Homo sapiens: one gene and its partners. The protein of the gene in region 1 purifies or fractionates together with the protein of each later gene. This does not show direct contact. Each region holds a gene or a part of one and is shown on either strand. Other genes may lie near its edges.

Region 1 (6,881 bases):
TGAAGTATGCAGGTGGCAGGACCTGCCCACATGGTGGCCTGGAGGGAGGAAAGTACAAGTATGTTCAGCAAGGAAAAGAGATCTGTTTCAGCCAGGTGCACTGTCTCAGCACTGTGCCAGGCAAGCACAGAGATTACATGTAGAATCGGACGTTATGGAAGACTCTTGAACGTCATGATCATTTCAGCTATGGGTGAGAGTTCAGCCTGGTGTAATGGCAATTCCATCAAGGCCCTGGATCACTGGGCAGATCAAAAGATCTAAGACTCAAAGGGTGTCACGCAGAGCAGACTCCAGGCCCCTGCCTGTTGCAATGGGAGCCAGTCCCCAAATAACCCCAGCTCTGAAGTTACAGCTTCATCAAGTGACTCACCCCACCCAAGGCGTCCGTCTCCTTCCAGAGTGTGGGACAGAGTGGGGGCAGCCCAGACTGTGAGTCCAAGGGGCAGAAACAACTCTGATCTTGACTCTTATGAAATACTAATTATAGTACAAAAGCCTATTGAAAGAGTGAAACCCTTCCAGAGAAGCAGATATTTTCCAGTGCAAATAGAGGCTTCTCTCCCACCACTAAACAGACAAAATGCCCAGCACCAAGCTGAGAGAGCCAGCCTGCCATGGCCCGGGGCGTCCTTGACATTGTGCACATCTCTGAGAGAGGGTAAAGTGCCCACAGCCTGATCTGCAGGGATACAGCACTGCTGGGTGGTCTCTGGGCACCAAGACTGACCCTGGGCTCCAGGGTACATTCATTCTTTCTAAACAGTTTTCTGAGCTCTTGCAACATGAGCAGACATGGTGCTGGGCACCGTAGTGAGCACTATGCAAGAGTAATCCCCTCTTTCCACATGACCCATGCAGTTTACAGAGCATCATACCATCCCCTTTGGTCCTTGCCGAAATCTTGAGGAATCATTGGCAAACCATGCACTTTTATTTCTTTTGTTTGTGTGATTGCCTTTTTTTTTTACAGATTTGTTGAAATACAATGACGCACACTAAACTTAGAGTGTGCTACTTGATAAGTTTTGACTAGTGTATAGACTTGTGAAGCCATCACAAAATCAAGATAAGAAGCATAAACTTCACCCCTACAATCTTGAGCCCCTTTGTAACTCTGCCCTCACCCTCTCCATCCTTATCCCCAGGCAATTGCTGATCTGCTTCCTGTCATTCTAGATTAGTTTGCATTTTCTAGAATTTCATATAAATAGAATTATTCTATATGTGTATCCTTTTTATCTAGCTCCTTTGACTCTGCATATTTTCTTATTACAGATGAAAAAATGGAGTCTGGATGAGGTAATGCAAGCAGTCAGTAATCACAGAACTGTAGAGGCAATGCAGGTGTCCTGGCCCTGAGCCCATGCACCAACCGCCACCCCTCATTCATTCATCACTCATTCATTCACTCACTCACCAGAGATGAATTGCGCACATAGGTGGGCTAGCCAAGTGGTGCATAAGACAGACATGTTCCCTGCCTTCATGAGCTTACAACTCTTCATTCATTCATCCATTCACCTACTTAGCAAGCAGGTGCTTAACAAATAATCACTCTACATCCACAGGATACACTGTTTGAAACTGGCACTGCCCCACTACCTCCAACACCACCCTGACCCTCATCAGCCACCCTCCTATATGCAACTTTGAGCTGGACACTGGGGTGACGCAGGTGGGATTGTAGGGGAATCCTGTCCTCCAAGACCAAGCAGGCTGATAGGAAAAGCTCTGCAAAACACAGTCATGCATCCTGAAAACTTACAAGAGAGCTGAAGAGTGAAGGCTGATCCCCTGGAAGCTGGTGCTCCAAACTGAGGACAAAAGTGAGCATCTACACAAGCAGGCTAGCAGCACAGGGAGACAGAGGGCTCTCTCAGACACTGGCCAGGGCAGGCTCCTGGGACAAGGTAGGATCTGAATAGTTCCCAGATGGGCAGGGAGGAATAGATGATGGAGGAAGGGAGGGGGAGTAAAAAGCATATGAGAAGCAAGAGCAAAACAAGGATGAAGGCATGGAGTCAGGACTGGGCTGAGCAGAAGGGGAGAATAGTGAGCTGAGAATTCCTCCTGCAGTTCTTTACGTGAAACATGCTTTCTACAAGCATGTTATATTGGGTTTATGTGTGGAGCAGAGGGGAGGAAAACGTAAAGGGAGATTTTTGTCATTTTACAATTTACAATTACAATTTACAAAGTGCTTTCACTGTTACTACCTTATTTAGTTCTCAGTATAATCTTTGAGATGGGAATTACTATTATTTTTACCCATTTTATAGATTAGAAAGCTGAGTCATAAAATCCAATGATTTGCTTTAAAATATACACTCCTAAGTGGTGGGGCAGAGCCTCACACCAGGTCCTTGTCCTCAAGACGGTTCTCTTTTCTCTTTGTTTTAATGATTAACATTTGCTACTAATGGGGCAGGTGGAGCCGCCTGCACAGCACACTTCTGTAGACCACGGAATATGCTGTTTGACCTTGGCACTGTCTGCCACCTCCTCACCATCAGACCCTCATCAAACACCCTCCTACCTGTCACTTGACCTGGGGGTGGAAGTGACAAAGAGGAACCTAGGAGGCAGGGAGAAGGGAAATGGCCTGGCTCCCAAAAAAGGAAGTTAATTATTTGGCCAAAGAAGCTCTCCCTAATCCCCAAATGCTTTCTGCTGCTGGCCTCCAGAGAAGTTCCTGATAAGGGTCACTCTAGCCTTGGCTAGAACCATGGAAGTGGTTCCCAAACCTTGCCCAAAGCTCACTGATGGTACTCATTCCTCTCAGAAAGCGGGACTGATTCACACCTGGAAGATAATCATCAGGGAGCACCATCTGCGGTCCAAGACCCCAAAGGAGAAAATGGTGCTCCGAAGACATGAGATCAACACAGAGCTGGAGTCCCCCACCCACAGCCATCCAGCTGCCAAGCAGTTCAGGACAAGGCCCCCAAATCATCATGCGAATTACTGTGAAGCTACATTTCTCCAGGGCTTTACCATGTACAGAGCCAGGATTTGAACTCGGGTGGACTGATTCTATTCTCAGATTCCATCCTGCCTCCCAGCCATCCTACTGCTCACCGAGCCTTGCAGAGCAGGCTGGCACCTGGCATGCTTGGCAGTGGGTACATCCTTCCTCATTCCACAACTGAGGAAGCAGCAGCTCCGTGAAATTAGGCCGTTTGCAATGGCCACATACTCCTGAGAGGTAGAATGGGTACTCTACCAGTGCTGACCAACCAGACTTGAGCTCATCATTCAACACATGGCACCTGAACTGAGAAAAGGGGTCATGGGATGGAAAGAGCTCTGGACCCCTGACAATTCTGTGGCCCTAGCCTACAGCTCCCCACAAGGCTCAGCTCCTATATAGGGACTCCATGGTCTAGTGGGAAAGGCCCTGGGCCAGAAGGCCATGGCCAGGTTTAGGTCAGGACTCTGTAGCACTAGTTATGTGACCTTAGGAAGTCACTTTGTCCCTGTGACTTGGTTTCCGCATCTGCAAAACAGAGATAACATCTAACCTCACGTGATTATTGTCATCTAGTGAGATAAGTGAATGTGGAATCACTTTGAAAAGACTACAACACTACACTGCAGGATAGCCTTGTCGCCTGTAAAGGAAACCTCTCCAAGGCTGTGACCACTACAGATTTTGCCTGAGGTTAAGTCCCTTACTTCTCTCCCACTCCCACCCCCAGCCTGCCTGGGTTCAGTGTTCTTAAATTGAAACTGAAGCTAGAATGAACCTGAGGAAAGAAATATTAGTCTATGTGTATAGATGTCCAAGCCCACTGGGCATGATTTCCTAACCCCACCTCCAGCGTGCGCGCGCACACACACACACACACACACACATATACACACACACACACAGACACACACAATTATTTACTTCCTTCCCACCTAAAATGATTTCTCAAAATGAAATTACTTCCTATGGACACCTTGGACTCAGGCCAAAAAAAATTCCAATTGCTGGTAGTTTCTAAAGTGCTTGTTATGTGGGAAAGTTGACAAAAAACAATAGCTATAATATAGTGATCTTTCTTTCCACCAAGCATTCCATACGTGTTATCTCATTTGAGGTACCTTCAAAACAACTCTAGGAGTTATTTCCAGGTGAGGGGTCATTTAGAGGACATTGTCGATTGGCCAACCCAGCGTCTTGTTTTTCCTTCCCTAAAGAATCCCCATTGGGTTCATAGATCTGGTTCCACCCTTCACCACTTGGTCCAGAAGCAGGGGTGGAAGTGATGCAAAATGGTTGAATTCTAGATATATTTTGAAGACATGACCAAAAGGATGTGTGAGGGACTGGCTGTTGGTGTGAAAGAGAGGCATTACGAATGAGATTGGGCATGGAGACGTGTTTGGTGAGACAGAAGGCTTCATGCAAATACAAGATCATGCTTTTTATTATTAAGGAATGTTAACTTCCTCTTTTAGTATGGCCCCTCTGCCATCACATATGGAGACCATCCTTTGCTGGGGAGAATCTCCCCTTCTTTGCCAGGATCCTTTTTTTGCAATTTCTCCTAGTTATTAGTTTATGCAAACTCAGGGGTACAAAATGATTTTAAGGGAAGCATGCTGCCAAAATAACCATGACGTTCCTTCCCAAGCTACAAATAAGTCATTGATTAGCCCATTGGTGTACCTTACCTCAATAAACAAGGGCCAGTTGTATTCTGCCCTGGATCTTGTATAATGAACTTCTTCTTCTCCATAGCTCACAGCAGGCAGTGAAGGCTGAGGATCTTCATGCTTCTTCCCTGGCTCCCCTAGAATGGATGTGTGTGGCTGGAAAGAAATGGAGGTTGCGCTGGTCAATTTTGATAATTCAGATGAAATCCAAGAAGAGCCAGGCTATGCCACAGACTTCGACTCAACCAGCCCAAAAGGCCGGCCTGGGGGCAGCTCCTTCTCCAACGGGAAGATCCTCATCAGCGAAAGCACCAACCATGAGACGGCCTTCTCCAAGCTTCCGGGAGACTATGCTGACCCCCCAGGGCCTGAGCCAGTGGTCCTAAATGAAGGAAACCAGCGGGTGATCATCAACATTGCTGGGCTGAGATTTGAGACCCAGCTCAGAACCCTTAGTCAGTTCCCAGAGACTCTCCTGGGAGACCGGGAAAAAAGGATGCAGTTCTTTGACTCCATGAGAAATGAGTATTTCTTTGATCGGAACCGGCCCAGTTTTGATGGAATCCTATATTATTACCAATCTGGTGGGAAAATTCGGCGCCCAGCCAATGTTCCCATTGATATCTTTGCTGATGAAATCTCCTTCTATGAGCTGGGTAGTGAGGCCATGGACCAGTTCCGGGAGGATGAAGGCTTCATCAAAGACCCTGAAACACTGCTACCCACCAATGACATCCACCGTCAGTTCTGGCTCCTCTTTGAGTACCCTGAAAGTTCCAGCGCTGCCCGTGCTGTGGCCGTGGTCTCGGTGTTGGTTGTGGTCATCTCCATCACCATCTTCTGCCTGGAGACACTGCCAGAGTTCCGGGAGGATAGGGAGCTAAAGGTGGTCAGAGACCCCAATCTCAACATGAGCAAGACAGTCCTCTCCCAGACCATGTTCACCGACCCTTTCTTCATGGTGGAGTCTACCTGCATCGTGTGGTTCACCTTCGAGCTGGTGCTCCGGTTCGTGGTCTGCCCCAGCAAGACTGACTTCTTCAGGAACATCATGAACATCATTGACATCATCTCCATTATCCCCTACTTTGCAACTCTCATCACAGAGCTAGTCCAGGAGACAGAGCCGAGTGCCCAACAGAACATGTCCCTGGCCATCCTGAGGATCATCCGCCTGGTGAGGGTCTTCCGCATCTTCAAGCTCTCGCGCCACTCCAAGGGGCTGCAGATCCTCGGGCAAACACTGAAGGCGTCCATGCGGGAGTTGGGGTTGCTCATCTTCTTTCTCTTCATTGGAGTCATCCTCTTCTCCAGTGCAGTCTACTTTGCTGAGGTGGATGAGCCAGAGTCCCATTTCTCTAGCATTCCTGATGGCTTCTGGTGGGCAGTGGTCACCATGACAACTGTAGGCTATGGGGACATGTGCCCGACCACCCCAGGGGGGAAGATTGTGGGCACTCTGTGTGCCATTGCAGGGGTCCTCACCATTGCCCTCCCTGTGCCTGTCATTGTCTCCAACTTCAATTACTTCTACCACCGGGAGACTGAGAATGAAGAAAAGCAGAACATCCCAGGAGAAATTGAAAGAATCCTCAACAGTGTAGGCTCAAGAATGGGCAGCACAGACTCTCTTAATAAGACCAATGGTGGCTGTTCCACAGAGAAGTCTAGGAAATGATCAGTCCAGGGCTTCTTGGGTCCATCCTGTCTCTCTTCTCTCTTCTCTCTCTCTCTCTCTCGCTTTCTCCCCTCCTCTCTCTCTTCCTTCTGCCTTCCCTTCCTCCCTTCATTCCTTCCTCTTTCCCTCTCCCTTCTCTCATTTCATCTTTCCAAAGATCAAAATGTATCTTTTGTGATCAATAACTATCTTTGACTACAAGCTATTTTAATAAGCCCATACTTCTACTGTATTTTCTAAACTGTTTCTTTTCAATACATTATAGAAAGATTTGGATCTCTTTTCCTATGAAGGGATAGTTCAGGTCCCCAGACCAGAAATACTGGTATCACCCGGGAGGATGAAAATGCAGAATCTAGGCCTACTCTGACCTACTGAATCAGAATCTGCAGTTTAACAAGATCCCAAGTGATTCGTTTGCATATTAAAGATTTAAAAGCACTGGTTTTGGTCTTCCTACGAGGAAGCATATGAAAAGACCAAGGGTTGCTGTGAGCAAAGAGGAAGAGCTCAGAGTTATTCAATTACAATAATAATAATACCTTGTACTTGTGTA
Region 2 (7,843 bases), on another chromosome or scaffold:
CCAGCCTGGCCAACATGGCGAAACCCCATCACTACTAAAAATACAAAAATGAGCCAGGCATGGTGGCACGTGCCTGTAATCCCAGCTACTTGAGAGGCGGAGGCAGGAGAATCGCTTGAACCCGGGAGGTGGAAGTTGCAGTGAGCAGAGCTCTCACCACTGCACTGCAGCCTGGGCGACAGAGTGACTCCATCTCAAAAAAAAAAAAAAAAAAAAAAAAATAGAAAAAGATGGTAGTAGATTGTTGGCTATACAGCCTGAAGTTCAGAGTAGAGGTCTGGGCTAGAGGTACACCCTTGGAGGCACTATCATATAGATGGTATTAAAACAGATTGGGCCGGGTGCGGTGGCTCATGTCTGTAATCCCAGCATTTTGGGAGGCTGAGGTGGGAAGATTACTTGAGCCCAACAGTTCAAGACCAGCCTGGGCAACATAGTGAGAACCTGTCTCTACAAAATATAAAAAATTAGCCAGGCATGGGTGCATGTGCCTATAGCTACTCAGGAGGCTGAGGCAGGAGGATTGCTTGAGCCTGGGAGATAGAGGTTGCTGTGAGCTATGATGGTGCCACTGTACTCCAGCCTAGGCGACAGAGTGAGACCAAGTCTCAAAAATAAATAAATAAATAAATAAATAAATAATAAATAAATACAGAAAAAATAGAACTATGAGACTGGATGAGATCGTGAAGGGACTGGGTATAAATGTTGAAAAGAGGTTGGGCGCAGTGGTTCACGCCTGTAATTCCAGCACTTTGGGAGGCCAAGGCGGGCGGATCACGAGGTCAGGAGATCGAGACCATTCTGGCTAACACGGTGAAACCCCGTCTCCACTAAAAATACAAAAAATTAGCCGTGCGTGGTGGCGGGAGCCTGTAGTCCCAGCTACTTGGGAGGCTGAGGCAGGAGAATCGCTTCAACCTGGGAGGCAGAGCTTGCAGTGAGCCGAGATCGTGCCACTGCACTCCAGCCTGGGTGACAGAGCTAGACTCCATCTCAAAAAAAAGGAAAGAAAGAAAGAAAAGAAAGAAAGAAAGAAAGAAAGAAAGAGCTAGGATAGACAACTAATATAAGGAGAGTTTTTTTGTTTGGTTAGTTTTTTGTTTTTTTTTTTTTGAGATGGACTCTTGCTCTGTCGCCTAGGTGGGAGTGCCTGAACCTCCCGAGTAGCTGGAATTACAGGCGTGTACCACCAGGCCCAGCTAATTTTTGTATTTTTAGTAGAGATGGGGTTTCACCATGATGGCCAGGCTGGTCTTGAACTCCTGACCTCAAGTGATCCTCCTGCTTCGGCCTCCCAAAGTGCTGGGATTACAGGTGTGAGCCACCGTGCCCAGCCTTCACTTCCCTTCTTACCTAGCTTAAATGTCTTTTTTAAGTGGGGTCTTGCTCTGTCAACCAGGTTGGAGTGCAGTGGTGCGATCACAGCTCACTGCACCCTCAACCTCCCAGATTCACTCTAAACTGGGCTAGGCAGGCCTGGCAAGGCAGTGGGATGTGGAGGGAGTGGAACACAACATTGAGACCCAGTCAAGAAGAGGACCCAGGGCGGGTGCGGTGGCTCACACCTGTAATCCCAGCACTTTGGGAGGCTGAGGTGGGTGGATCAACTGAGGGCAGCAGTTTGAGACCAGCCTGGAGAACATGGTGAAACCCTGTCTCTGCTAAAAATACAAAAACTAGCCAGGCATGGTGGCAGACACCTGTCATCCCAGCTACTCCAAGGCTGAGGCAGGAGAATCAGTTGAACCTGGGATGCGGAGGGTGCAGTGAGCTGAGATCGCGCCACTGCCCTACAGCCTTGGGCAACAGACGGAGACTCTGTCTAAAAAAAAAAAAAGAGGACCCAGAGAAGACTAAAATTTAGTCAAGGAGAAAGTCTCTGTCAGGCCTGAGCCCAACAGTTCTCTACCTCACTGGATCCCGAGTTCATCCATCCTACCCTCTTTCTACTGTGCCCCTTCTCTCTCTCCCCAACATCTTCCCTTCCCTTTTTTTTTTTTGAGTCAGAGTCTCGCTCTGTCACCCAGGCTGGAGTACAATGGTGTGATCTTGGCTCACTGCAACCTCTGCATCCCAGGTTCAAGTGATTCTCCCACGTCAGCCTCCCGAGTGGCTGGGACTACGGTTGCCTGCCACCACGCCCGGCTAATTTTTGTATTTTTAGTAGAGACAGGGTTTCCCCATTTTGGCCAGGCTGGTCTTGAACTCCTGACCTTAAGTGATCTGCCTGCCTTGGCCTCCCAAAGTGCTGGGATTACAGGCGTGAGCCACAATGCCCAGCCTCCTTCTTTTCCCTCCCTCCCTTCTTTCCTTCCCTCCCTCCCTCCCTTCTTTCCTTCCTTCATTCCTTCCTTCCTTTTCTTTCTTTCTTTTTTTTTTTTTTTATTGAGATAAGGTCTTGCTCTATCACCCAGATGGGTGTGCAGCCATAGGATCATAGCTCACCACAGCCTCCATCCTCCCACCTCAGCCTCCTGAGTAGCTGGGACTACAGGTATGGGCCACCATGCCCAGCTGATTTTAAAAAAAAATTAGAGACAGTGTCTTCTGTGTTGCCCAGGCTGGTCTTGAACTCCTGGCCTCAAATGACCCTTCTGCCTCAGCCTCCCAAAGTACTGGGATTACAGGTGCAAGCTACTACACCTTGCCACAGTCTTTTTTGTTGTTTGAGACAGGGTCTCACTCTGTCACCCAGGCTGGAGTGCACTGGCACTATCATAGCTCACTCAACCTCCTTGGCTCATGGGATCTTCCAGTTTCAGCCTCCTGAGTAGCTGAGACAACAGGCGTGCACCACCATGCCTGGTTAATTTTCTTTTCTTCTTCTTCTTCTTTTTTTTTTTTTTGAGATGGAGTTTTGCTCTTGTTGCCCAGGCTGGAGTGTAATGGCGAGATCTCAGCTCACCACAACCTCCGCCTCCCGTGTTCAAGCTATTCTCCTGCCTCAGCCTCCCAAGTAGCTGGGATTACAGGTGCGTGCCACCACGCCCAACTAATTTTTGTATTTTTAGTAGAGATGGGGTATCACCATGTTGGCCAGGATGGTCACAATCTCCTGACCTCGTGATCCACCCACCTCGGCCTCCCAAAGTGCTGGGATTACAGGCGTGAGCCACCGTGCCTGGCCCAATTTTTAAAAAAAATTTTGTAGAGATGAGGTCCCACTTTATTGCCCAGGCTGGTCTGGAGCTCTTGGGCTCAAGTGATCCTCCTGCCTCAGCCTTCCAAAGTCCTGAGATTACAGGCGTGACCCACTGCACCCAGCTCCTTGCCACCTTCTTGGTGCCAATCAAAATAGTCCTGAATAAAGTCTGACTTACTGTTTTAACAAGAGTCAGATTTTTTTCTTTAATAAGCGCAGTAGAAGAGGTGAACTGAAGAGGAGGGGCTGCAGTCATTGATGAAGACAAGGTCCAAGGCAAAACCACAGACTAACAAGGTAAGGTGGAGGTTGAGATTTATGGAAGCAGAGTTCAGTGACGGACAGGCCAGGGTATGCCAAGGGAGTGCTTATAACTAACTGACCCTGAAAAAGTTTTTTTTTTTTTTTTGAGACAGAGTCTCGTTCTGTTGCCCTGGCTGGAGTGCAGTGGTGCGATCTCAGCTCACTGCAACCTCTGCCTCCCAGGTTCAAGCGATCCTCCTGCCTCAGCCTCCTAAGTAGCTGGGACTGCAGGCGCATGCTTGAGTTCAGGAGTTCCAGAGAGGCCTGGGCAACATGGCGAAACCCGGTCTCTACAAAATATTTAAAAATTAGCCAGGCGTGGTGTGTGCCTGTGTAGTTCCAGGCACTGCGGAGGCTGAGGCAGGAGGATGCTTGAGCCGGAAATGCAGAGGTTGTAGTGACACGAGATCGCGCCACTGCACTCCAGCCTGTGTAATAGTTCCTGGATCAAAAAAAAAAAAAAAAAAAAAAGGAAATGTATCTGAAACTTTCCAAGCTCCAATTTCCTAATCTGAAAAATTGAAATAGCGGTACCTACCTCACAGAGTGGCTAATTTAATGCAGTGCTATTTGCAAGGGATAATTTATCAAACCTTTAGGCGTTGTTCTAAAGTGCCCATTAAATGCTCACTGAACTCACAGCCTTAGGAGGGAGGTTCGAGTTTATGCCCATTTTACATATGAGGACGCGTTGGCAGGTGGTACTGCTGTTCATGGGATCTGTAAAGAGTGAAGAAGGAGTCTCAGCTCTCAGTAGAGTTCATAGGCTCTAGGATTTCTGCTGGAAGTGAGAACACTGCAGGGAGGCAAGAAAGCGGGCATCAGACGGTGCAAAGCGACCCTGGGCCCAGATCGGCGGCCAATGGCTCCCTCCGGTGGCGGAAGCGAAGAGCGCAGCTGGATCGGGCGCGAAGGGAGGATCCCCGCAGCGGGTGAGGGGCGAGGCTGGGACCCGGTGGAGGTTCTAGGGTTTTGAGAGGTTGGAGGACTAGAACTCCAGAAGTCCCTGAACGAAGTGGGCCGGATTTCCCGTGACGCACCTGGCCCAGGTGTTGCAGCCCCGCCCACCTCCCTGCCGCTTTCCGCCATCCTCACACGCCCCCTTTAGTGGGGTGGCTGCTCACCGCACCTCGGAGCTCGGACTGGGGTCCGGCCCCTGCGGCGACGATTGTTTGTACCTAAGTGAAGGAGGCTCCGAGACCCGCGGCCCACGTCCTGCCGGAGACGCTTGTCTGCAGGGCTGCATTGCATCCCCGGGCGCACGTGGAGCTGGAGCAGCGCAGGCTGGGGAAGAGCAGAGAGGGTCGGGCTTCTCCGGGCGCGCCATGGGGCGGGGCCGAGGACGGGGACCAATAGCGCGCGCGTGCTGGTGGGGGTGGGGACAGGCTCCAGGCCTGGCATCCCGGTAGCCGCAGCTGTCTTTTCCGGCCCCCGTGCACTCTCCGCCCGAGCGGAGCCCCCCGGCTCGCGGGGATCGCCCCCGAGCGCTGCGTCCTGCGGGTGGGTGAGTGAGCGCCTCGCGGCCCCCGAGCTGTGGGGTGCACCTGGCCGGGGAGAAGGATATCTTGGCTCCCTTGCACCCCAACGGGCGCAAAGGGGCAGGAGCCCGGATTGGGGGAGGAGGAGGACCCGGGGACCTTGTGTCGCTCGGTGGGAGCCGGTCTGTGTTTCTGTTTCGCTAGGGTGTGTTTGGGTTGGTAGAGTTTGTGGGGAGGGGTGCCTCGTGTGGATGGGAGGAATCGGGGAGGCTAAGGCGAGGAGGAGGGGGTTTGAGATGGGTTGAGGGAGAGGATTGACGGAGGGTGGGGTTTTGAAAGAGTTGGAAGTTTCTTGTTACCTGTGGGTGCGGTGATTGCATTGGGGGGCTTGGTAGGGGCAGCTCAGGACACCGAAGGAGAGGATGGGGAAGGCTCTCCTGCCCGTAACTTACTTCCCTTTTGGGAGATTTGGTTCCTCTTGCATTGCTAGTTAAGGAAGGAGAGGCTGGAGAAGCCTGTGCCGTCAGAGAACCTTTGCCCCTTTCCAGAACCGGTGCCATCCCTAGTCTCAGGAACATAAGGGAAGGGGTGGCCCCCAGGAGCCGGGAGGGGCCTTGAAACCCCTGCTGACAGGTTTGGGGTACCACTTTTTTGTGGGGCAGTGGCTGGTACCATTTGCAGCCCACGGACTTTTTTGAGTTGCCGGTAAGCAGGGTGTGGGTGCGTTCCTGTTTCCTTGCGGTTGTCTCTTTTTTTTTTTTTATTGACACAGGGTCTCGCTCTGTCACCCAGGCTGGAGTGCAGTGGCATGATCTCGGCTCGCTGCAGCCCTACGCCTCCAGGACTCAAGCGATTCTCGTGTCTCAGCCTCCCAAGTAGCTGTGATTACAGGCATGCACCTTCACGCTTGGCTAATTTTTTTTTTTTTCTTGTGAGACGGAGTCTCACTCTGTCACCCAGGCTGGAGTGCAGTGGTGTGATGTCGGCTCACTGCAACCTCTGCCTCCTGGGTTCAAGGGATTCTCCTGCCTCAGCCTCCCAAGTAGCTGGGACTACAGGCATGAGCCACCATGCCCAGCTACTTTTTGTATTTTTAGTAGAGACGGGGTTTCACCATGTTGACCAGGGTGGTCTCGAACTCCTGACCTCAGGTGATCCACCTGCCTCGTCCTCCCAAAGTGCTGGGATTACAGGCATGAACCACCGAGCCTGGCCAATTTTTGTATTTTTAGTAGAGAGCAGCTCTGTCTTTTGGGGAGGCTTCAGGGTGTTTGATTAGTGGTCTTTGGGGGTGGGCGAGCTCTGTGGGGGAGCTTTTGATGCAACATAATCTCCTTTGCAGGTCACCTAACCCATTTGTGGCTTCCTCTACCTGTGCTCAGCCATGGCCAGCGAGAGCTCACCTCTGCTGGCCTACCGGCTCCTGGGGGAGGAGGGGGTTGCCCTCCCTGCCAATGGGGCCGGGGGTCCTGGAGGGGCGTCTGCCCGGAAGCTGTCCACCTTCCTGGGTGTGGTGGTGCCCACTGTCCTGTCCATGTTCAGCATAGTTGTTTTTCTGAGGATTGGTGAGTGGGTCCTGGGGCGGGTGTGGACTGACTATAGTATGGGAGGACATGATGGGGAGGGGTGGAGATGGGACTGGGATAAGATTAGGAAGGGGACCCAAGAGAAGCGGTTGGCTGAAGGGTTTGGGGAGGGGCTCTCTGTGGGCTTGCATTTAGCTCCACCCTGGAGCTCTGCAGAACCAGGGGGTGGGGGATATGGGGTGTGAGTCCCCTGTGACCTGATTTGCTGCTCCTGCCTCAGGGTTCGTGGTGGGTCATGCTGGGCTACTGCAGGCCCTGGCCATGCTGCTGGTTGCCTACTTCATCCTGGCACTCACCGTCCTCTCTGTCTGTGCCATCGCCACCAATGGAGCCGTGCAGGGGGGCGGAGCCTACTGTATCCTCCAACATCGATGGACTGGGGTCTGGCCTGTTCTGCCTGCTAGGGAGGGTGTGGAAGGGGCCATTACCTTTGTTGGCTCAGGGGCAAGACAAGTGTTTTTTTCATTCTTAAAATTTTTTTAGGCTGGGTGCGGTGGCTCACATCTGTAATCCCAGCACTTTGGGAGGCTGAGGTGGGTGGATCACTTGAGGCCAGGAGTTCAAGACCAGCCTGGCCAACATAGTGAAACCCCGACTCCACTAAAATTACAAAAATTAGCTGGGCATGATGGCACCCGCCTGTGATTCCAGCTACTCGGGAGGCTGAGGCACGAGAATCGCTTGAACCTGGGAGGTGGAGGTTGCAGCGTGCCAAGATCGCATCACTGCACTCCAACCTGGGCAACAGAGCAAGACTCTGACTCCCAGGCTGCAGTGCAGTGGCGCCATCATAGCTCACTGTGATCTCGACTTCCTGGGCTCAAGTGATCCTCCTATCTCAGCCTCCTGAGTAGCCAGCACTATAGGCATGTACCACCACCCCTGTTTAATTTTTAAATATTTGTAGAGATGGAATCTTGCTATGTTTCCCAGGCTGGTCTTGAATTCCTGGCCTCAAGTGATCCTCCTGCCTCAGCCTCCCAAAATGCTAGGATTACAGGCGTCAGCCACTGTGCCTGGCCTGGCAGGGCAAGTTTTAATAAATGTGCAGCAGGCAGGCTGGTATAGTGAAGGAGATCAACATTGCCCTGCACGTTGATGCCAATTTCTAGTCCAACAATCTCATCTGTTAGGCAGTGATTGTTTTACAGATGCAGAAACTGGCACTCAGAGGATATGAGTGACTTGGGCAAAGCCACATGGCTGGGGCCTGGCTGCACTTGGGTTCAGTGCTTGGAGCTATGGCAACTTCCTCACGTCCATTTCAGTCTTTTCCCTTAATGCTCACCCCTGCTTCCACTTTCAGTCATGATCAGCCGCACACTGGGGCC
Region 3 (6,909 bases), on another chromosome or scaffold:
GATCCGCCCGCCTCGGCCTCCCAAAGTGCTGGGATGACAGGCGTGAGCCACCGCGCCCGGCCTGCATTACATTTTCTGAGTATTGCTGGTGCATTAGGCCCCCCACTGATTTGAATATATTGATACCGTAACCATGAAAATGTATTTGGTTCAGGGGGCATGGGGGAGATAAGGGAGTTACCTAATTTACTGTTTGTACTAACTGGTTTGTTAACTGTCCCCAAAACTGTGATTTCACATGGTCTATCACCACACTAGAGTCATGCGGATTTACTTTCAAAACCATGCTGTAAATAATCTATATGGCTCATCCTCGATTTCCGATACGGCTGTTTCTCTGGTCAAAAAAAAAAAAAAAATCCCATAAAACCTCAGGTAATGCAAGGTAGATCTGGGAGAGATCCTGATAGGCTGGTTCCCAAATCACTGCACTAGTCTATGTATCTCTATCTATCGATCGATAGATAGAATTTTTTTTTTTTTTTTTTTTTGAGATGGAGTCTCACTCTGTAGCCCAGGCTGGAGTGCAGTGGCATGATCTTGGCTCATTGCAACCTCCGCCTCCTGGGTTCAAGCGATTCTCCTGCCTCAGCCTCCTGAGTGGCTGGGACTACAGGTGCACGCCACCACACCCGGCTAATTTTTGTACTCTTGAGTAGAGACGGGGTTTCACCATATTGGTCAGGCTGGTGTCGAACTCCTGACCTCAGGCGATCCGCCCGCCTCGGCCTCCCAAAGTGCTAGAATTACAGGCGTGAGCCACGGCGCCCCGCCTGCATTAGTCTGTATTTACAATACCTGCATTCTAAGCTTTTCAAGCCACTCAGGACCCTTCCTGGCGGAATGTGGGTTCTGGACTTAAGCAGGACCCTAATGGAAATGTGCAGGAATGGGGATCAAGCCATTCAAGGGGCAGTCACTGAAGACCACTTTCACCTTCTTTCTCAGTCCTTTACTTTCTCCCTTAAAGGCAAGGGAGACCATATATGCTTTTCCCCTCACAACATCTAGTGCCTGAAAAATCTGACCAAGACTGCATTTAAAAACTGAAGTGTAAAGGTATTGGTTATAAGAACAAACAGCAACCAGCTTAGCCTGGCTCAGCACTGGCTGCTCTGAAATTTCATTACCAGACAACTGATGCTCTAAAACCATTCCCCACATTGGTTTGCTCTGTGGCTGGATAAGACCCAAACTTTATCCATACAGTAAGTGTCTCTATACTTCACACATATAGGGTTTCCATCAAATCCCTTTATCGAGTCTACAACCCTCTCCAACTTCAAATTCACTCCAATACAAATCTGATTCTAACCATGCCAGCCATTCCAAAATCATCTCCCTTCTAGAGACTACATTGGCTAATCCCTTTGTTAAACCTGAACACAATTCCAGCTGCTTTTATGACTCATTTGGCCAACTAGAGCCCAGTTACTGGATAACATGCATACACCACCAAGCTGAACTAATTAACACCAGAATGCAGTTTTCCACTGAATCTACCAAGGGCCAAGAACTGCTTTTCCCCAAGGTTCTCTCTCTCTGTACTCAACAGACTGGTGTGGTCCAATATGCTGCGGGCATTCTCTTTCATTTATAGGAGTGCCTCCAACTGCGAAATGTGAGAGTATGATGTGGAAAGGTTCTAGAACTAGATTAACGTACACGGGCTCCAGCTTTGCAAGGACAAAGGTGCACATTTTAGGGAATCCAGTATCAGCCCCAACTGCCTCCACTATCAGGTACTGTGCTATGAGTTTTCCAACATTATGAGGGAGACCCGATCTGTCGGGCCCTTCTAACGAGAAGCTTCGATTTGCAAAGGCTAAAGTGCCTTCATCAGGGTGAGAGGTACACCCAGCGAGGCCACACTAGTCCATCTGACCCCAAAGGCCATGTTCCTGAGCGCCGCGCTCACCATCCCGCCTCTGATCTTTTCTCCCTCGGCCCGGCGTCTCCCGAGAGGCAACCCGATCCCGCCGGAAGCCCAAGAAGGGCCTAGGAAGCGGGCGGAGGCGAGAGCCAGGAGAGCACCCGGGATGCCGGCCGCCGGGATGCCGGACGCAGGAGGCGGTGCCCGGGGAGCAGGGGCTCACCTGTAGGCGGCCACGGCCCGAGTCTGCAGGTATTTCTGGGCGGTCATGACTCCCACGAAGAGAAAGTTCCTGTCGCGCGGGCCGCCATCTGGGTCCGAGCCGGGCGGCCAGAGCTGCGCCCCGCGCGCATCGCCGCGCGCCCCGCCGGCCTGGGAAGCCGCCGCCTGCCCGGACCGGCAGCCCTCGGGGCTGGCGCGGCGCCGTGGGCCCGCTCGCTTCAGCTCGGAAGCCCGGGGCAGGACGAGCCGCGAGGCCAGCACGAAGCCCAGGACGAGCCCGAGCAGCACGCTGAGCCAGGCGCGCCGGCCGCGCGCGGCCATGCCCGCGCCGCTCCGCCCGCCGGGCCGCCGCCGCAGGCTCCGCGCGCCCTCAGCCCGCTGCCCCCGCCCGCGGAGGCCAGCCCGCCCTAGCGCCGCGAGGCCCGGCCCGGGCAGCGCCGCCGCCGCCGCGGGCCCGCCGCGCCCATCGCGGCCCCCGAGCCGCCCGCAGGCCCCGCGCCGGCGCTTTGTTCCGCACGCCCGCCCCCGCCGCCGCGGCCTGCGCCTTTAAGAGGGGACCATGCCCGGCGCGCGCTAGCGGCGGCTCGGGCGCGAGGTGGCGGCGGCTCCTCCCGCTCGCGCGCGGGGACGCGGGGCCGGCACGACGGCGACGACGGCGGCGGCAGACGAGTCCGGGCTCCCGTCCCGCCCTGCCCGCGTCCTCCGGCTGGCTGGGCTCGGTTCGCACGGCGCCTGTCCCCGTCCTCTTCGTAGCCGGCGCCGCCGCCGCAGCTGCACATCCTCCGGCTTAGCTCGCCATTGCAACAGGAGCCCCTCACGTCACGCACGGCGCGTTATGAAGTGGCCCCGCCGGCGGCGAGCCGTGGCCCCTCTCGGGATCCGTCCGCGCCGCGCGATTGGCGCAAAAGTGAATGAGGGGCGGTTCACGTGGCCGAAGTTTGACCAAAAAAAAAAAAAGCCCTCTCGGGCGCCCCGCCCGCGCGGTCTGCGACTGGAGCTGGCGGGCGGAGGGGGCGTGGGCCCCCGCCCGGCGCCCGCGGGGCCGGAGCTGCCCGTGATCCGCACCTAGCACCCGGCGCAAGGGCGTCCCCGCGAGGACGGCCGCTTCCCGCACCGCGGCGCCCGGGCGCGAATCTCGGGAGCCAGCCTTGCAGTGGGGGCTTCTCGGCCCCCAGACTCCACGCTGCGCACGTTCCTCCCGCACGGGCCGTCCTCGCTGCACCCCACGGCCACGCCCTTCCTGCCGCCGGGCCGGCCCCGCGCTCCCGGCCCCGCGCTCCCGACCACACTGCAGCTTTGTCCGCAGTCCCGCGGCCGCACGCAGGGAACAGCCGTCCCGGAGCCCTGGGGACGTGCGCGCCTGCGAGTGGACCGTGAATTCAGTTACCTTGTTCCCTGTTGCTAGTTTCTACGCTAAATAAGAAGAAGAAGAAGAAAAAGCCATCTTTAATACTTAAGGTCCACGCTTCTCATACAGTACTAGCATTTAATGGATCTCGAAGACAAGGAAAATGAAGTTAATGCCCTGGATGGTAAACCCTACTTTCATTTACATACTGTGTGGGCAGATAGCCGGCTAGTACCCCCAGCCTGGGACTTTGTCCCTACTTTAATATAGTCCGTCTGTAAAAGTGCCGTGGATTTCTAAAGACGGATTTTGGGTCCCAGATCCTCTACTCTGGATTTTAAGTTTTATACATTTCCTCTGCAATACTTCAGCTAAGGCAGCAAAAGCGGAGGTCTCCATACAACGAAAGTTTGTGTAGAGTTTCAGTCTTGTTACTTAGTCACCAGTATATTGGGGTTTTCTAATGAAACTTTTGAAGGGCAAAGTGTTTCCCTGGGCCTGAGAAGTTACCTGCATTGAATCAAATAAACACATGCCTGGGGCAATCCTTGGATCTTTCTTCATTGTTGACCAAATGGTTGAAATACTATCACACAGTTTAAAATGCCTGTGGGAGCTTCAGATACCTTCTCGGCACCTGAATGGTGGTCACTCTTGTTTATTCTTTGGATATTACCACTTTCTTTGACACTTGTGATTTATATTAAAAATAGTTCATTACCTACCTTCCCACAGAGCCCCTCCCTAAGGGGTGATCCACATCTAAAAATAAAATACTCATTATGCAGTGAATACAGGATTCCAGCAGTGGTCTTGGGAAAAATACAGAACATACAACCATGAATTACAGGCTCGAAAACCATCGAAAAAGGTTTCCACTAAGACCATAAACCACAAATGCCGAGGAGTCACCAGATCCCCCAAATTCAGCAGCCCCATCATTCACAGTGATTTACATGAAGTACGAATCTGGCCAGATTCAGATGTTCAATTTTGTAGCATATTCAACGATTTCAGTATTTTCTAACCTGCTTTAGACTTACCTAGTTTTCTTCGAAACTAGTGTCCAGTGAAAAGCTGGCCGGGCGCGGTGGCTCACGCCTGTAAACCCAGCACTCTGGGAGGCTGAGGCGGGCGGATCGCCTGAGGTCAGGAGTTCGAGACCAACCTGACCAACATGGAGAAACCCCGACTCTACTAAAAATACAAAATTAGCCGGGGGTGGTGGTGCATGCCTGTAATCCCAGCTACTCGGGAGGCTGAGGCAGGAGAATCGCTTGAACCCGGGAGGTGGAGGTTGCTGTGAGCCGAGATCGTGCCATTGCATTGCACTGCAGCCTGGGCGACAACAGCGAAACTCCGTCTCAAGGAAAAAAAAAAAAAAAGTATATAAATATCTGATGGGAATAATATTCTGAGGATGCCAAATATTTTGTCCTCCTCAATATCCTGGTTCCTAGTTGTCCCTCAGTTCCTAGGTTAACAGTCTCACCTGTCTCACCTGCAGGCTTAATGGGGGTCTTTCGTAATGTAGAAAGGATACCCTTTTCTTTGTAAAGGCTGAGCCTGAGGGCTTACAATTCCCTGGAGAAGGAGAGTAAGACATACGGGAACTCCCTCTGGGAGAAGAGGGATATGCCAGGCCAAGAGAGGGTTGGAAGGAGAAGAGAGAAACTGAGGTCCTGTAGAAGTCTGCCAGGGGCAGGGACCAATTCCGGCATGCAGCCTAGGAGCAGGAGGGCAAGCTCTAGCACATCTGGAAGGAGCAGCTGGATTGTTGAGCTGAGGCAGTTCTCCTGGGGAAGAATCCAAAAGTGTCCCAGTAAGGGGCCTGGCTCAGGAGACAAGGCTATCCTAAGTGGGGATTTCACAGCCAGTAGCAAATACCTGGAATCAAGAACTTCAGTGACAGCCAGAGACCCAAACAGCTGGACAGGACTGGTACCCCCAGTATGAAGGCCTGTCCCATGCCCAGCCCCACTAGTCAATACCAGCAAGGAGCCAGGGAGGACAACGAGGGTCTGGAACATCTGCCCCCAATGCACACACATGCGTCCTTCCCCACAGCCCCCTGGAGGCCAAGGCTGTCCTCATCCTAAAGCCCCCTCACCCTAAGTAATTTTTAAAGGTAAGGAGTAGGCAGGGTGATTCGCATTTATAGGGATTTCACTGCAGGGAGCTGAGGAAAGACTTTTCATGTTCCGGGCTTCTTGATTTCACTGTGCTACTGGCCTTCTCTGTTGAGGGAATCATTGACCATTTTTCTCATCATAAAAGAAGGGGAGGTATTAACTGTTACCAGGAACACTTGTAAGGAAGCCCTTAACTGTAGTTATTCCATGAAAGTCCCAATGGCACAGGAGTGGCCCAAGAGGTGGGCTGTGATGGATCAGGGATCAGGAGTGTGGGACCGAGTCTGAGCTCTGCGTGGAGTGAGTTCCACCTGGAGGGGCTCCGGGAGTCCGGCTCTGTCTCCAAATGAGTCTTTCTGCTGGATCACGTTAAACGGTCCTCCATAGTGATTCCAGACCAGTATTCAGAAATGTGTTCAAAAATCCCAGATCACTTAACTTCCCTTCTGTGTTCATGAGTGTGACTCTTTATGACACATTATTAAAGTTCATCGCCACCTACCTTACTGAGCATTTTCTCACAGATGGCAACTTTGTTCCCACACACTTCACATTTCTTTTCTGTTGCTAATACATTGAACGTCTGTTACCAGTATAACATTTCATATAATTTGCAGCAATTTCTTGGAAACCCTTGGTAAATACCTCAATTGTTTGTTGGCAGCAAGCCTCAAACGACCGACAGAGTTCCCTGTTAGAGCTTCTTTAAAGATGAAGCCTCTCCACTCACGCCTCAAACAGGGGTCCTTGGAAAAAGTGGTAATTTTTATTAAAGAAAAAAAACTTTCAGAAAGGCCTGTTTTAAGAAACAGTGAATGCTGAGGAGTTATAATCATCCATCCTTTCAGAAGGTTCTGTTCACTGCCTGCAAAGAAGAAAATCTATAATGACCACTTTACTAATATTGCCACTTAACCTCTGTTAACCCAATAAAACACTGCTTCATTATGAATGCTGCTATTAAACTTACAAGCAAGATCCTCATGAGGTTGTTAATTTCGCTCACTATTTCCTTCTGTTTGTAGCATTTCCAGTCAGATGCAGGAAAGGGCAAGTGAGCAGGGCTCACGTTCTGGTTTCACACACTGGCCTATTCCAGCCCTGGGTGTTCTGCAAAGTCCTTCAGTGCTTATCAGCTGTGTACACCGTTTCCATCAGACGCTGAGTCAGTGTGAGTGCTTCTCACACTGTGTGTGTGTGTGTGTGTGTGTGTGTGTGTGTGAGCTTTCATGTGTACGATAGAGACACAAAAGAGATTTAAGTTCAGTATAACCATGTGGACCAGCCAGATGGGATGTGATCTTCCTAACTAGAAAACGCTGGGTGCCGCCAGC
Region 4 (7,481 bases), about 100 Mb from region 1:
AAGAGCCAGGCGGGCAGGTGCGGGTTTGCCAGCACGCGGGTGCTCTGCACGTCTGGGTTGGAGGGTTTTCAGCCATTGCCCACAAGCATATTGCAAAGCAAGTCCTGAAGCACATTCAATCCAAACCAACCCTCACTCGGAGGTTCACCACGGAAAACAGGGCCTGGCATGGAAGGAGCCCTTGGTGTCCAGGAAACTGGCTCCGGGTCTCTGCCCCGTGGCCACCGGGTGGCGCTGCTGCAGAGCACTTGGCACCGGCTGCGCTTCCTCAGAGACTGCCCTGAGCAGGCGACTGGTGGGGGCCCGGGGGCATGGGACATTGGTGGTTCTTTCTGACCTGCACCTGCTGGGGTTGATGCCAACTGTGGACTCTCTCTCTTCTCTCCCTTTCTCCTTTTTCTCTTTTCTCCATTGCTGTCCGAAGTACTCGGTATGGGAGTCCCAAAAGACAGCTCCAGTTTTACAGGTAATGAGTCTTCATTCTCCCTAAAACCCAGCGAGCCGAAGGCCAGGGAGCGGGTGGGAGGACTGCACCCTTGCCGAGCAGGGTGTGCTGGTGTATTCTCTGAAGCCAAAGCCCCCGAGACCCCCAGGCTCTGCTCATCACCCTCTGTGCCTACCCACAGGATGCTGTGCAATGTCCTGATGGAAAATGTGAAGTCAGGTTAATTGTATGTGTTGGTCTGCCAGAAGTTTGCTTTGATTTGAGCAAATGGGCTTTTGATGACTGCCAAGCTCTCAGCCAAATCTACCGTTAAAGCTTCACTCATCAGGCAGTGAGGGAGATGTCTTCCTGTGGTCACCAGCTTGCCCTGCTTCCATTATCAGAGTACAGGACGTGGCGAGCCCATCCGTTCCCCCTTTGCCTGTGGGTTTGACCTGATCTGGAACTCACAGAGCTCCTCAGGCTCATTGAAGGTTAATGCCTGCTTGGGGGTGTGCAGTACTGATACGACGTGGATCAGTGACATCTTTCTGATATGTTTTTCTGTTGGTGAATTAACAAACCGGGCACCTGGCGAGAGACTGTGCCCCAGCAGGATGTGACATCAAGATGCCAGGCTTAGGGCCCTGCAGGGTGCTCTTGGGGAGACCCGTTCCTCTCTCTGGGCTGCCTCTCCCTCACCTGTAAGGCAGGGGATGCATGTTCTTGGTGCAGCCTCCAACCCTAGGAAGTAAAATGTCAGGGCTGCCTGGAGCCCATGGGCAGCAGCCTCCCCATGCCTTGGGACTGTTTGGGGAATTGGCACGGCTTCTGGCAGCAGGTCCCTGGTATGCATTGCTGCATCTTGGCGGTCAGGCCGGGAGGTCTCTCTATTCGGACCCGGACATCTGGTAACAGTGCTTTGGGGATCGTTGCCAATGTGCCAGGCAGTGGTCATGGAGGTGGCAATGTATTTCCATGTAGCTTTTCTCTCCCCGCGCCCCCACTCCCCACCCCCCCCCCCGTTTGCCAGCCATAGCACCTCTGATGGGGACCGTGGACCTAGATGCTCAGAGTGATCTGTGCCACGCCTTCAGTGCCTCCTCGGAGGTCCTGCTCCTTACAGGGAGCTCTGAAGACATGGCCAACTCTTAGATCCTACTGAAATTTTGGTAGATAAGATTTTGCTTAAGATAGTTAAATCTGAACTCCGGCTTGCAAATGCTTTCCCTGGATGAAATGTTTGTATTGTGATGTATGTACACATGGTATAACAGATCCTAACAAACATATGCCGCTCATCCCAGGGGATTTCATCAGTGAAACAAAACATGTACCTGAACTGCATCCTCAGAGAGCCGGGAGCAGCCTCAGTCCTCAGAAGGGAAGGGGTGAGGTCTGATGAGCAGGCAGGAAAATCCCAGGTGCAGACCTGCCAGCTCAAAAGGGCTGCCCACAGGTACAGACCATCCAGCTCCAAGGGCCTGCCCCTAGGAGGGGCCAAGTAAATTATCCAGTGACCAAGTGAGAGCCTTCCAGCCCACTCAAGGCCCTCAAAACCCCACAGGCTCAACATGTTGTCCCCCCCGCCGGGATCCCTGTGCTTAAGAACCTTCATTTCCAGGTGGCCTTCCTGGCCCCAAGGGAAGCTCTGAAGCTTACCCTCTAGGCTCTCAGCCCCAATTCTGGTGCCCACAGGCTCTGGCCATCCTACCCGTTGGATCTCCAGGGGGTCACTTGGGTGTCTCTTGTGGGGGCTCTGGAGATGACCTCTAAGGGCTAGGGTCTTTGTTTGTTAACAGGCTGGGGGCCACTCCTAGTAGGGCACCCTCATCACACCAAGCATACCACTAAACATGGCTATTGGATGGTTCTTTCAGTTACTTAGGCCTGGCCCTCTCACAGGGCAGAGGCGTTCAAGGCATGTGCCCTGCCCCCATGCAGCTCCCAGGCAAGGAATTGGCATAGGACACTGTGCCAATCAGCTGTCCACCAAGTGCTGCATAACAAACAACTCCAAAACTCAGTGCCACGCAGCAATCAGCATCTCTTCCTTGCTCCCGTGTCTGCGGGTTGACCAGGCAGCTCGTCTAAGCTGGCTTGGCTGGGTTTGTCTCCAAGCTGCAAGTTGGATCCCCATGTCCTCCATCTTCCCATGCTTAACTGGGGCCTACCCCAGGCATGTCCTTCCCATGGCAAAAGTACCAGAGGAAAAGCAGAAACATGCAGGGTCTCTTACGGCCTATGGTTGGGGTCAGAGCGCTGTCACCTCTGCTCACGTGCTTTTGGCCAAAGTAAGTCTCAGGAACCAGCCCACAGTCAAGGGGCTGGAAATATATTGCCCCCACCAGTGGGAGGAGCTATAAAGTCACATGGCAAAGGGCATGGGTACAGAGAGGGGTGAAGGATTGGGAGCAATACTTCCATGTACCCCAGGTCTCAAATAGCCCTGATGATCTCCAGAAGGCAGAGCACGTCACAGGAGAAGCCCAAAGAGCATTTGGGGTCCAAGGAAGGAGGGGCCACAGCCAGCTGAGAGCCAAGAAGACTTCACGGAGAAGGCAGCAGGGGCTTGGATCTGGTCCTTGAAGGCTGGGCAGGATTCAACGCAGAGGCTGGGAAGCATATTCCAGTAGATACAACAGCCTGAGCCACAGCTCAGAGGTGTGCACAGAGAACAGGAAGTGACAGTTACCCAGCCTGGGCCATCAGGGACATGATGGAGAATAAAGAGAGGCTGGCTGTAGAGGTGGATGTTGGTGGGGGGCCTCGAATGCCTAGCGATGGGGCACAGATGCACTCAGAGGGCACTGGGGAGCCATCTATGGTGTTTGAGCAGGGCAGGGGTCAGAGATCTGCTCTAGGAAGGAAGCCTGGTAGCAGGGAGTAAGACAGGGAAGAGAGAGGCTAATGCAAGGAGACCAGACAGTGCCCAGGAAAGGTGCAGGACGGCTGAGCTCCAGGAACTGCACAGAGAGAGAATGAAGGGGTGCAGGGCCTGAAAAAAGGACGTCAGAAGCCACGTCCACAGGGCTTGGCCACTGATGGGCAGGTGCTGAGACAGAAAGGGACAGAGAGGAGCAGTGGACCCAGGGAAGGAGAGGGCCTCATTCGGAGCATGTTAGGCTGCAGCTACCACCCAGTAGTGAGGCGCAGGCCCCCCGACCAGGGCGACATGTGGGGATCTGACAGAGTGGGCTTGGGCCTTTGGGGACAAACCATTTCAATTGCCAAGGCCTTCGCAGCTAGTCACCCGCAGCCAGGCACCTCCAGACTCTACGTGCTCTCCCAGCCTCCCACTTCATTTACCTTCCACACTGCGACTGGGGCACTGATTTCCTGTCCCCCACCTTCCCCCATGGCAGCTACCACTGTTTGCTCATTCATCATGGGGGGACGGTTCTGCCTCCATTCAAAATCCCACATTCACTGGCGCGCTTTCTCAGCCGGAAGATGATGTCACGCTGGGACTTTGCTGGCATCCTGTGACACGCAGTGACCCTGGGGGTCATGACCCTGGGGTTGGGGCTCAGCACTTAGCCTCATCCCAGAGCTCAGCCTTGTTTGGCCTAGTCTCAAAGCATTTCCCAAACCCCAGGTCAGGACATGTGCCGTGGAGAAGGGCTCCTGTGTCCCTGCCTGGAGTGAGTGGCAGTGTGGAGTCCAAATAGCAGGTTCTGGGGCCTTCCTGCCATTTATAGCTACCGGTAGTATCAGATATACCCATCTCGGGTGTATCCCCAGAGGACAGGAGGAGCATGCGCGTGTGCTGAGCAGAGGCCTCTCCAGACCCCCTTGGCTGTGGGTGGTGGCCCCATACGACGGGGCCCCCAGCTCCCCTGCTGCAGACACAGTTCAGAGTTGAGTGGTATGCGGAAGCCACAGGCTCTGTGTCCCGCACTCAGATACCAAAGAGCAAGGCCTGCCCCTTTCGACCTGTGGGTCCAAAGGTTTGTGTTTCTGGCACGCGGGGATGGTGGAGGCAGCAAGGGTAGGCCTGAGGGACGGGCAGGACCTCCCCCTCACCTTGGGCTGCACCCCAACCCCACGCACCGGGAGTCAGCCTTGCCAGGTTGCAGCACGGAACTGCACTTCCCGAGCTTTTAGGGGAAGAGGCACTCGTGAATAATTCAGCCTCTTTCACTGAGATGAAAACGCCCTAATAGAACTAATGGACTCGCTGCCTCAAAACTCGACTCTGGTGGGACTCATCTCATTCACCAATTGCTTCTGACGTCCTGCAGTGACACTCCCTAATGAAAAAGCCGCTGTGCCAGATCCTTAGAGTGTCTGGTGATCCCTAATAAACCAGACTGTGGCCTTTTTAACGAGCAGACGCCCCCACGAAGGCAGGTGAGTCCTCCCTTCAGCCGCTACCTTCCTAGTGGAGATGCCGCTTGGGGGCACGCATCCGCGGGAATGAAAAATAACAGAGGAGACCATATTTTGGGGTGGTTTTGTCTGATCCGGAATTAGACCCTCCGTGTTTTTGCAAAGCAGAAGACCTTAAAAAAGAGCCAGCCTGAGGTAAACTTGGAATGACCGTGATGGATGGGGTGGTGGGCGGCAGGTTTCAGCCGGGCAGCACCTCTCGCTTGAGTCTGCTCACAGCCCAGACCTGCCCAAGGCTGACTGTTTTCCCATCTGCCGGAGACACGGGCGTCTAGCTCGTACCTCGCTGTGTTCACCATTGATTAAGATTCAGCATTTTCCAGTTTTGCCCAGAGCGCTGTCAGGGAGGTTTGGTCTTGTCTGAAATGTCTGTGCAGGAAGCACGTGCTGAGGGAGCCAGGGGCTGCTTGTTTGGGCCTCAGTTTGCTGATTGTCCTTGAGCGAAAATCATTCTGTGTTTGCACTGAAGCAATGCCGTGTCTTGTAGAGCCGCACCCCGGAATGGTAGCAGCTCCCCTTCCATTTCCGCTTTGGAGAACTCTGGCTGGGCTCTCTGCTCTCTGGACAGGTGTCACCATTCAGAAGAGATGCTCAGGGTTCCTTCTCAATCTCAGGTTGTATGCTTTGTTGGCTTTCAGTAAACAGAACAATTCAGAAATTCCAGGTAGAGGAGTCTGGGGTGAGGTAGTGATTCCTACTGACTTAATGAGGTTAACATCTTCCTTGCATTTTTCCATGTCACGGTGTTAATTCACGTGAATTCCCCTGGGCCCCTGATCTACAGGAATAGATTTGCACCAGGCAGGCCCAGCCCAGGAAAGAACTTGTGGGTTCCACGTAATTAGCAATGGCTATTGAGGAGGGGCTCGTTTTTCTTGGTACCAGGGTGGTGAGGGAGTGTCAGGGCTCAGAGACCCTCACTCTGGAAAGCGGCCGGGATTTGGGATATTTTGAATTGGAAGTCAGGGGTCACTGTGCTCTTGAGCACAGGAGAAGTGGGGACCCTGAGGCAGGAGCCCGGCAGTGGGGCCACTCTCTCCTCCCTGCAGTGTCTTACCGGGGGGCCCTTCGTCCAAGGACCTGACGCTGCTAGAGTCTCGGCAAAAGCCCAGAATAGAGCCCCAGTGTGAGGGAGTCCAGAGGTGTCCTCTGTCCCCAGGCACCGCTGGTAACGGGCAGAGCCTCTTTGCCTTCTGCCTGTACCTATCCTTCTTCCCCTGGGGCAGCCCTCCCAGAGTCATGAGCCTTCAGGACCACAGGGAGCCCCCGCTGTACAGAGTCCTGGCATGGGAGTCCCCCCCACACAAGAGAGGGTGACCTGCAAAGAGCTGCTGGGTCTGAGGTAGGAAGCCAGCCCCGCCCCCACCAACAGCTGCCTGGCACTGCCAGGAAATGCCCAGGTATAGCCCTGGTTGGCCTTTTGGAGCCTGGGCCTTGGTTACTGTTCTACAAATATCTGAGCCCCTCCTCTGTGCACGGGACACTCCCGTGGGCACTGGTCAGGGGGCAGTGGCAGCAGGCAGAAGAGTCCTTGCCCTCCTGGACCCAACCTTCAGGGGAGTCCAGCGGCCATGGGCTCCTCATGGCACCAGCCCTGCTCCTCACCCCACCACCCCATGCCAAAGGCTGCCATTTCTGTGCCCGCAAGTTCCCTGGCCCAAGCCCTGCCCTGGCACCATGGGGACAAGCTCGTAGCAAGAGGCTCTGGGCTCCCTCCGTGCCGCAGGGCTCCCACCTGCAGGTCTGCTCCCAGGGCTGCAACATGAGCTCTAAGGAAAGATTGCAAGCGGGCCCCCACAGGGAGGGACGCCCTCTAAATCCTGGCCACAAAACCCATTCTGTCCTGCCCTCTCTCCCCTCTCCCACTCACATCCCCAAACTCAGCCTTCCACCATCTTGTTGTGAAGGGGGCGATTATTCACATCTGTGTTCTCTTCCCTTAAGCATTTTCTAGGGAGATTTGGTGTCTGTGTGGCTCACTCCTCTCACTCAAACCTGTGGTCACAAGTTCCTTCCCGCCCTGCCTGCTGGCCCCTGGTGGTGGATTTTTCTTTCCACAGCATTTATCATAATTGGTGTCTTATCCCACGCCCCCCAACAGACTGTCTTCTGGCTGCGTCACCAACTCCCACCCAGTTGTCCAAAGCCTCATCTCATGCAGCCCACAGCAGCCTGGTACAACAGGCCTCTGCCCAGCCTACCTCACAGATGTGGAGGCTGAGGCCGGGAGCGGTCAAGGTGCCTGCCTGGGCCACACCATGAGCAGGTGACAAGCAGAGCTGCCCCTGTCCAGAAGCTGGGCACTCAGCCACCCCGTCCTCCAGCCCCGGGGCCTTGGCTATATTTCTAGAGCCAAACCAGACCCGGATTGCTTTTTGTGAGTAATGTCTTGAAAGCTAATGGCTATTGATCTCAGCCTGGTCGGGCCAGGCAGGGAACTTGCGTGTCTGAGGCTGGTCCTGCCTTTCAGAAAGAGCCCTGGGGCTACAGCCTGCCCAGCTGGCCTTCTTTCTAAACACAGACCTCAGGGAAGTGAGGGTTGGCCCCCATTTGCCCCACACCGGACTGGCAGCTAGCCACATGGCCACCTCAGAAGCAGCTGCCTGCCACGCGCATGGAGGGAAGGGAGTGGCCGGCCAGTAGGCAGGGAAGGGAAGCTGGTGCT

Evidence for each region.
Region 2: the proteins of KCNA10 (region 1) and SLC12A9 purify together in Homo sapiens (affinity purification with mass spectrometry; 2 studies listed by BioGRID and IntAct, with this or other methods). This does not show direct contact.
Region 3: the proteins of KCNA10 (region 1) and CHSY1 purify together in Homo sapiens (affinity purification with mass spectrometry; 2 studies listed by BioGRID and IntAct, with this or other methods). This does not show direct contact.
Region 4: the proteins of KCNA10 (region 1) and KCNAB2 purify together in Homo sapiens (affinity purification with mass spectrometry; 2 studies listed by BioGRID and IntAct, with this or other methods). This does not show direct contact.

What each region holds. Positions count from the first base shown.
Region 1 is NC_000001.11:110,516,696-110,523,576, reverse strand, and holds KCNA10 (potassium voltage-gated channel subfamily A member 10), read left to right. Parts: upstream 1-4,401; 5' UTR 4,402-4,789; coding exon 4,790-6,325; 3' UTR 6,326-6,360; downstream 6,361-6,881. UniProt on the Homo sapiens protein: Voltage-gated potassium ion channel that mediates K(+) permeability of excitable membranes.
Region 2 is NC_000007.14:100,847,888-100,855,730, forward strand, and holds the start of SLC12A9 (solute carrier family 12 member 9), read left to right. Parts: upstream 1-4,825; 5' UTR 4,826-4,948; exon of another isoform or gene 4,949-5,131; intron 5,132-6,268; 5' UTR 6,269-6,310; coding exon 6,311-6,491; intron 6,492-6,732; coding exon 6,733-6,867; intron 6,868-7,818; coding exon 7,819-7,843. UniProt on the Homo sapiens protein: May be an inhibitor of SLC12A1. Seems to correspond to a subunit of a multimeric transport system and thus, additional subunits may be required for its function. May play a role in lysosomal ion flux and osmoregulation.
Region 3 is NC_000015.10:101,249,041-101,255,949, forward strand, and holds the start of CHSY1 (chondroitin sulfate synthase 1), read right to left. Parts: upstream 3,009-6,909; 5' UTR 2,417-3,008; coding exon 2,097-2,416; intron 1-2,096. UniProt on the Homo sapiens protein: Has both beta-1,3-glucuronic acid and beta-1,4-N-acetylgalactosamine transferase activity. Transfers glucuronic acid (GlcUA) from UDP-GlcUA and N-acetylgalactosamine (GalNAc) from UDP-GalNAc to the non-reducing end of the elongating chondroitin polymer.
Region 4 is NC_000001.11:6,041,407-6,048,887, forward strand, and holds the start of KCNAB2 (voltage-gated potassium channel subunit beta-2), read left to right. Parts: upstream 1-4,481; 5' UTR 4,482-4,777; intron 4,778-7,481.